2 separate regions of the Homo sapiens genome follow, and region 1 is linked to region 2. The links come from fine-mapping of genetic effects on gene expression. A gene starts in region 2. The other region holds a variant in brackets. All regions are shown on one strand. Distances are from middle to middle.

Region 1 (4,373 bases), 42 kb before region 2:
CTCAACACTCGAAAACTGGACATGCCAGAGACGCGATACCTCTTCCCCATCACCACCAGCTTCACGTATGGCTGGCAGCTGGGTGAGCCCAACCTCTTGGAAATCACCTCAAAAACAGAGCACTAGCCATGTGCTAGGGAGTGGGCATCCTGGTGAAGGGTCCAGACTATAAACAGAGCAAGGAGATGGCCAAGAAGTGTCGACACGTTCCACAGAACTAGGGAGTGGCGGTGGGCAGGGAGGCAGCGGCCACGTGCTGCTATTTATTGGATTGTCAGGAAAGGCCTTTCTGAGGACCCGAGGCTGAGAGCCAGATGATAAGGATGGGTTTGGATTTTATTTGTTGTGCAGGGAAGCTGATGGAGGGTTCTAAGCAGATTTCAAGAGTGACACTGGTGAACCTTTTAAAAAGTCACCCTGACCTGTATGTAGGCAGTGGCTTTTTCAGGGGAAATGGTAGAATCTGGCACATGAGTTGGGCATCTGTTTGGTTATCCTGTGGTAGTGGCCTGAGGGATCAGCAATAGAGCTGAAATCAATTCAGGATGTTTTGGGGGAAGACTCGGTGGAACTCACCCATGGATAGAATGTGAGAATAAGGGGAAGAGAGATCAATCACCCAGGTGTTTGTTTAGCTAAAGCTGCAGTGACAGGGAAGACTGGGAGAGGTCAGGGCTGGAGCGTGCATGAACAGGTCCTATTTAGCCATGTGTGTTTGGCTATGTTATGCTTGAAGTGTCTGTAGGGTGGCTGTGTCTATAAGTCTGGATTGAAGTCAGAGCTGAAGATGCAAATTCGGAGGTCATTGGAATATAGGTGCTTTTTTTTTTTCTTTTTCTTTTTGAAACAGTCTGACTCTGTCACCCAGGCTGGAATGCAGTGGCACGATCTTGGCTCACTGCAACCTCTGCCTCCCAGGTTCAAGAGATTCTTCTGCCTCAGCCTCCCGAGTAGCTGGGACTGCAGGCGTGTGTCACCACGCCCAGCTAATTTTTGTTTTTTTAGTAGAGACAGGGTTTCACCATATTGGCCAGGCTGGTCTCGAACTGCTGACCTCGTAATCTGCCTGTCTCGGCCTCCCAAAGTTCTGGGATTACAGGCATGAGCCACCGGCTGGCCTATAGGTGCTATTTAAATCCATGAGATCTCCTAGGGAGCTCAAGTTGCTGGAATCTGATGGGAGTGGGGGCAGGAGGGCTGAGCCAGAGCGGGTAGGGGATGTCATTGGCAGGAAGCCTGTCCATCTCGGCTGAGTCTTTTTTCTGTGAGGTTGAGTCAAGGCCATCAGCGGGGAGGGAGCTGAGCTGAGGCAGTGGAGTAACTAGAGATGAAGAGGAAAGGTGTGGAACAGGCATGTGCCAGGCAGGGCTGCTGGGCGATGTTGCTGCACGTCCCATTGCTGTCTGTGCTCATGAATGTCAAGTGAGACTCCTCAGCCCTGTACCCTTCTCCAGCTGCTTGAGTGTCTTGCAGAAAAGGTGGATGGTTGGGGATTGACTCAGTTGAGATTTTGCCCCCAAACATCCCTTTCCCCCAGGCCCCTAAAGGGGAAGTCAGGGAAATAACTTTCTAACAAAAGCAGGAGGCGAGCCCTAGAAGCGGGGAGCAGGAGGCCGAAGGAAATCTCATCTCTCCACAGTCTGTCCCTGTGACAAGCAGGCTAGGGTGGCCCCCCTCCCTGCAGGTAGAGGATCCTGAAGCTAGGGTAATGATGGCAGATGGCTGCTGTATCCTGGCATCCAGCCAGCTCCCAGTATTTGCCCATAGCTCCCATTCCTCCAAAGCACTTTCTATTTCTTCCCACAAAGTGGCTACTCCACTGACGGATTCCTAGGGCTGTGCAGACAGACAGGGCTCCCATGCTCTGCGTGTCCCTCCCTCAGGAACCCATGCTTGGCCTCTGACATCTTTTCCCAGGCCCCCCAGTGAAGCAAGAACTGGTCTCCTGCAAGATGTGCCGCATTGAGTCATTCTTCCGCAAGAACGGGGCCTTCGCACTGCTTGATCCCCGAGACCTGGCCCTCTGACCGTGGGCCAGGTGTGGGCTTAGGGGAGGGAAGAAGAAATAACAGGCCTCCTGGTGGGGCAAAGCTGCTGTGTGTGTCTGTGCCCCTCTGCTCTCCCTGTCCCTGAGGTTGCATTCAGGCCTTTCTGAAACTATCAGACCTGCAAGTTGCCCTCTTGCTTTTTCCGTAACCCTCATCACTTTAATCATCCCTTTGAGGACTCAGCAATGACCAGAGGGTGCTGGGAAGGGCGAGCACTACTTCGCAGGCACGGGATCCTCAGCACCAGGGGAACACAGTAGTTCCAGGAAGTTCTGGGTGTTCCTGGGGAGAGAGCGGCTTGTCATTTCGGAGGCCAGGGAAAGGGGCCTCCTGCCACCGCCACACCCCTCCTTGCCCGCCCCTCACCTGGCCCCGAGGGCCCGCAGCCGCTCCGTCCTCTCCCGATGCATTTGCTCCAGCTGCTCCCGCAGGGCGCGCCGCCGCCCAGCCGCGTCCTCCTGGCGGTGC[G/A]GAGCGCTGAGCGTCCGCGGCTCAGTGGGGCGGGCGGGGCAGCACCTGGCACACCTGCCCCTCGCGCCCCGCCGAGTCACTGCCAGAGTGCAGTGCGCTCACTTCAAAGGGACCCGGGCGCGCTAAGCTCGGCCCCTGCCCCGCGCAGGCTCCTTGTGGCCCCACCGCCTTCTAGGGGTCTTGCCTGTGGCGGGAGTTGAGCCGGACTGGGCGGGAGCCCCACGGGGTGAACCCGGCAGTGGCGGTTCCTGGCGATGTGGAGGCGTTCCAGGACCTGCAGAGGCGGCAGTCAGCGTCCGGCCGCCCCTCGGTGCCCCGCCCGCTCCAGGCAGGCCCCGATCCCGGCGTGGGGACACACCCGGAGCCGCTGCTGCTCACGGTCCCGCCGGCGGCGCTGCCGCCTGGCCGCGCTGTGCAGCTCCAGCAGCCGCTGCAGAGCCGTCACCTGCTGCGCCGCGCTTAAGCCCGCAGGCGCCTTGGCGGTGCTGAGGGGCGCCGGCCACGCGGCCTTCAAGGCCTTGGGACGCTCAGGGCCGCCCCACCCGACCCCGGAGGGCACCCGGAAGCCAAGCCTGGCCCACCTCCTGCTCCCCCGGTGCGGGGCCCACTCCAGGGCCCTGCAGCCCGTGCGGATCGCGCTCCAGGCCTGGGGGCCCCGGAGAGCCCCGAGGAGCCCCTGCTGCCCGGATACCTCGGCGCGCAGGGTCGCTGGCATCTCGGCTCCGGCTCCGCGACCTGGGAGCCGCCGCCGGGCCGGGGGCTTCGGGCGGGTAAGCGCAGCCCACGCCCCCTCCCGGGCGGCCCCCAGCTTTGCCACCGCCGGTGCCGACCTTTGTGGCTCGCCTTTGATCATGCTCTGCGTCAGCGTGGTAGTCCTTCTCCGGAGGTTTGGGCTCTCCCTGCCCACAGGCTTTGGAGTCTGTGCTTTCAGGGACCCGCAGGAGTCCCTCGGATGGCTATGGGGGTCGCCTTCCTCTGGGGGCTGCACAGTGGCCTCTCCGGGAGCCACCTCCCAGGCTTGTGAGATATTGCCTTCCCAAGACCGCAGCATCTTCTTCCCTGGACTCTGGGGACTCGCCTTTCCCTGGCACTTAGGACTAAATTCTCTTCGACTCCTCCCTCTGACCCTGAGGAGCCCTTGGGCTCTGGCCCCCGTGTGTCTTCACCTTCTGACTCTGAGGAGCATCTTTGATCTCGCCCCAGGAGGCCTCGGCTCTCTTACGCTGAGGGGTCTCCGCTTTCTGATCCTGAGGGTCCTCCTCTCAGACTCAGGGGTGTCCATCCTTGGTGGTCTTTGAAGTTCTGCTCTCTCCTGGCCCAGGTGCGGGTCCGAGCCCAGCCCTTCAAGGGCATCTTGGGAAGGCAGGTTTTGGGAGGGCAGGTCCCCCGGCCCAGGGGTCCCGGGAGTGAGCTTTCTTTTCTGGGTCTCAGGCTCTGCCTCACTCCTCTCTTCCCTCTGGGCCAGGTCCTGGAAAGGAAAAGCACTTTGGGCCCAGGTTTGAGAGGGAACCTGCAGACCCCAGGGGCCAGCCTTTGCCTGATTCCTGAATTTGTTAAAGCCATTTTATGTAGTGTGGAAGGTGCTTCACTGAAGAGCCTCCTCCTCACCCCAGCAGCCTCCTCCCAGGCAGACCCACCCCTGCCATCCCCAACCTGAGACCCTTGACCTTTTCACCTTGCACTCTGAGCTACCTGGCACCCCAAAACTCCTCCTGGTAGTGGGGTTGAGCTCTTGTAAGGAGCCTGAGGAAGAAAGACCAGTATTGGGAGCTCATGTCCCAGCCCCTCATGCACAGTTCACCTAGACTAGAGCCAGGAAGTTTAGGGAGTCCCAGTGCATGGCTAGGGGTGCCCTGA
Region 2 (4,373 bases):
ACAGGGGTTCCTGGGGGCTCCCACATTGGGTGGGGTGGGCTTCAAAAGTGGGACTTGGCTGCATTTTCTGAAGGGTGTGAGAAATGTGCTGGCAAGGCCCCTGCTAACTTTGAACACACCAGATCCAGTGAAGACAGCCTGTCCCTGCTTCTAGAAGACACTATGTCCAGGAAAGAGGGACGGGGCACCTCTGAGCTCTGGCCTGGGGTTAGGGGCGGCCACTTTCACCTTTTCACTTTGATCCTTCTCCTGCAGCCCAGAAAGTAAAGGCAGGAGGGGAAGAGGCAGACATAGGTCCCTCCTCCAGGCAGGGATGGGCAGGGAAGTTGAGGGTCTGGAGCGGAGGCAATAGGAACAGAGAGAGGAGGAGGGAGAGGGATGGGTCTTTCCCACCATGGCAGCTCATTAGTGAGGCCAGGCCTGGAGTGGCTTAAAAGGGTTTCTCACAGACACTAGGCCTGTGAGACAGGGGAACAATGTCACCCACTGTCACCATCAAAGGCAGAGGGGATTCTAGGCTAAAATTGAACTTGCTTTGTCCCAAGTTCCCTGGCTTGGTTAATGCCATCACACATACCCAGTTACTTAAGCCAGAAAGCTGGGGCTCAGCTCCCCTATTTTGTTGCCTGAGTTGTCCCCTAATACATCCCCCCCTTCTCCTCTCTCCACCATCTCCATTCAGAAGGCTGAAGACAAAGCGTCCCTGCCTCCATCTGTGCCCCTTCTCTCCACTCGACCTTTCTGAATCACACAGCCGAAGTCTCCCAGGAGCAAGTCCCGCTGGGATGGATCACAAGCACCGCCCACCTTTCCAGCCCCGCTACTTCTGGCTTATATCAGGGATTCTAACTCAGTTCCCGCACCCTGGGCGAATACTGGCCCTCAAACCCCAGGTGCCCTTTCCCATCTCCGTCCCTCTACTGGGGATCCTGTCACCCGGAATGGCACCCGGTCTCAGTCCTTCCCAAGCACACAGAGGGCGGCCACGATGGGCGTCTCAGCATCTGAAACCTTCTACCCAATCTAGACTCCCGTGGGGCCTCATCCTGCTGCCCAGGGCCCCTCCTCCCAGGCCACTCCTCCAGTTCTGCTTAAGTAGGCAGGCAGGATATGGGAGCCCGGGAGAAGCTGAATCCTCTGGGACCCCTAGGTGAAGCTAGGGCCAGCCTCGCCTGGAGAGACCTGCAGAAAGAGCTCCGAGTGGCACAAACTTGGCTGGTCCCCAAGGAATTGTCCCGGGTTCCCCTCTTAGCCTCCCCTGGCCCCGTGCCGGCACCGAGCCCTCCATTCCCGCCTGTCCTGCTCCGGGGAGGGCCAGACACAGATGCAAAGTCAGCTTCCACAGCGGGCCCCTTTTCTCCCCCTCCTTCGTCAAGACAAATAATTAACTTCAGACTCCCAGATGCCAGGGCAGCCGCACTCTCTCCCGCCGCCGGCTGCAGGAACCGCCCCCCTCTCCTGAACCCCCTGCTTTGGCCGTGGTCTTCCCCACCCTGCTCGCTCCCCCGACGGGGAGGACGGAGCTGGCCAGGGAGGCGCGCGAACCTCAGGCAGGGCTAAGAGCAGAGCCCCCAGCCCCTCTCGGCCCCCTCAGGCCGGGCTGATAGGAGGGAGGGGGCGCACCTGGCCGGACCCCAAGCCTCCCGCACCTGGACTCACCTTCCGCGCCCGCGGCCAGCGCCAGGGCCCCGAGGTGCAGGAGAAGGGACAGCGCAGCGGCCCCGACCCCGGCCATGCTAGCTCCGCCTCGCTCGGCTCGCCGTCTGTCGTCGCGGCTCAGCAGGCGCTGGGGAAGGCGGGGTGGGGACACACAGGCCGCTCCCACCCAGGCTTTGTTCAGGGAGGGCTCAAACCCCCCACCGCGCGCGCCTTTCCCATGCACACCTCCACCCGCCCCGGGCCCGGCCGGTCCTGACCCCAGAGAGCAGCTCCAGCTCGCAGGAAGCCCAACGGGGGTGTAGGCCTTGTCTCCGCTTAAGATCCAGGAGGAGACCCTGAAAAGAAAATAAACCCAAGTCCACCCCTCTCGGGATCCTAGAGAGTCTCCCTGCCCTTTTAGGTTACTCCATCGCCCTAGGGTTTCCAGATCGATTTTTCCTCTCTCTCACAAGTTTACAGAAGAAGCAGACTGAGCTGGGTTTAGATCCCTGCTCAGCCAATTCCATGTGGCCTTAGACCACTAACTTCTCTGTGCCTCAATTTCCCTATCTGTAAACTGGGGATCACCACATCTACTTTATAGACTTGCAGTGAGCATTAAGTGAGATTATATAAGTAAAGAATTTAGAGTCGGTAGAGAGATGGTAAATGCTCAGTAAATAACAAATAATAATAATAAGAACTCCTGATCTCTGAAATCATGGACACGACCAGTGTTTTCCTCTCTCCCCTATAAGTTTCTTTCCTGAACTCCACTCAACACCCCTACCCACCCCAGCAGTCCCAGGCTTGGCCCCAAATGCCAAGGCCGCCCTTCACTGGCTGGTCTCAGCCCCATTTCCCACTCCTGAGCTCAGGCCTGGCTGTGGGGTGAGCCTGGGTAGGGGGCAGGGCTGGGCCCTGGGCTCAGCAGGCAGAGGGGGCCAAAGGGAGGAAGTGAGGACAGCCGTCCCTGTGGGCCCACAGGCTGGGAAACTCCTCCTTGAAGCTGGGAAGCAGAGGGTTGGGTCTCACAGGCGAAGCTCACAGGCAAAAAGGAACATTGAGGGCGGAGCTGTGAACCCTTCCAAAGCTCTCCCTCCCTGTCATAAAGACCAGAAGTCGGAAGCCACCCCTCCCCCTAGACCAGGCAGGGACTGAGGTCTCCCCAGCCCACTCTCCACCAAGCTTAAAGCTTCAGTAAGGAGACGGCAGCTTCTCTGCCCCAGAGTCTGGGCCCATAGTGGACCTGAGCCTTTGCCACAGGGGGCAGGGAGGCTGCAATGCCACGCTAAGACCTGGCCTCAGTGCCTGGAGCTGAGGTCACAGAGGAAAGCCAGGGCCAGCCAGCCAGAAGAGGAACAAGGAAGCGGCAGCACTATTCCTGGCAGGTTTAAGGAAGGTGGCTTTCATTGACCGGGTGCCTCTGGAAAGCAAGTCCTCTGAGGGGCTGGGTAGTGGGACGGTTCAGAGCACAGATTCTGGCAGGGTTGCCAGGGCGCATCCTGGAGCTCTTGCTTTCTGCTCTGGGGCCTCTGGCTGGTCACTTCACTTTTGGTGGCTGATTTTTCTGAACTGTGACTGGAGCTCTAACAGCACCCACCTCATGGAGTGTTTGTAAGGATTAGTAATGCATGGTGCTTGGCACAGAGGTATGAGCAATTTTTACTTCCCTTATGAAGAATGGGGGCACCTCCATCCCCATTTTACAGAAAGAATCAGAGAGAATCAGGGTGAGCAGCTCTAAACCACACTGGGAGGATGCACAGGGCTTCCCTCGCCCCACAGTCCCCTTCCAGTCCCTTGTGTCTTAGCCTCTGCCACTGAGCCTGGCCCCAGTCGGCCCTCATATCACATTCCCAGGGAGGGACACTGTCCTGACACAGAAAAGGTCCTCCAACCCCTGGGGTGCGGTGGGGTGGGGAGGCTGGGCCTTCACTTCACCCCCAAGGCAGGTGTTTGTAGTGTCTGATTCTGTGTGTGTGTGTCTGGGTGTGGCACATTTGTGTGTGTGTGTGTGTGTATGTAATGTGTGTTTGGCTGGAGGTGGGGGCTGAGGCTGGGGAGGCACTTTTGGGACTCAAGGGACCTTGACTTTGAAGGGGCTTCCAGGGACACTTTCGTCACCCCACTTGACGATAAGGATGTAGTCCCTTTCTCCTTGACAGTGTAGGTGACATTGTACACCCGGTTCCCCATGTGCTTCACGTACACCTCCTCACAGGGGGTCTTGGGGCCGTGCACGCCCACCATCATCATGTTGGTGCCTGGAGAGGGAGGCAGAGGGACAGGCTCACACCAGGGAGTCCCCTACTGTGACCCACACCCTGCTCCCTGACGGCTTCTTGCTCACACCCCGGGAGACGCCCTCCCCCCGCCACCTGCCTGCTTTGCTGCAGTCCACGGTGAAGGAGTTCTTCTGGCCCACGAAGGCCTGGGACAGCCCAGGGCCCCGAGTCACCACCTTGCTGGCATCTGAGGAGAACTTGGGGATGGAGTTGTAGCTGGAGCCCCGGCTTGAGGAGGACTTGGTCACAGTCTCCACCAGAACCGTGGATGTTTCGTGAAGGCTGTGGCCTCCGGACAGCCTCGGACCTGAGGGGTGGGTGGAGGGGGCACAAACCTAGTCAGAAGGGCTTCCCGTTCTTCCCCAGGCAGGGGACCCTCGGCCAGCACTGCCACCCTGTGGGACTCACTGCCTGCATTTGAGGTTCCCCCCCAAATTCCTCCAAGGG

Evidence for each region. PIP is the estimated chance that this variant, and not a neighbour inherited with it, causes the effect. A credible set is the group of variants that fine-mapping cannot tell apart.
Region 1: its variant is the best candidate, but not a certain one, in a credible set for the expression of KCP in whole blood (TOPMed, PIP 0.56).

What each region holds. Positions count from the first base shown.
Region 1 is chr7:128,866,749-128,871,121 of GRCh38, forward strand. It overlaps SPMIP1 (sperm microtubule inner protein 1), which reads left to right. Exons shown (of 2, transcript NM_001195150.3): 1 at 1-82; 2 at 1,918-4,373. The coding sequence ends at 2,027. Among named protein-coding and RNA genes, the nearest start is that of SPMIP1, 2.6 kb to the left of the region's middle. RefSeq lists silencers at 2,450-2,559, 2,690-3,209, 3,270-3,389. The variant G/A (reference allele first, on the strand shown) is at 2,517.
Region 2 is chr7:128,908,942-128,913,314 of GRCh38, forward strand. KCP (kielin cysteine rich BMP regulator) reads right to left here and starts at 1,768. Exons shown (of 40, transcript NM_001366122.1): 1 at 1,660-1,768. The coding sequence starts at 1,735. It also overlaps the pseudogene LOC392787.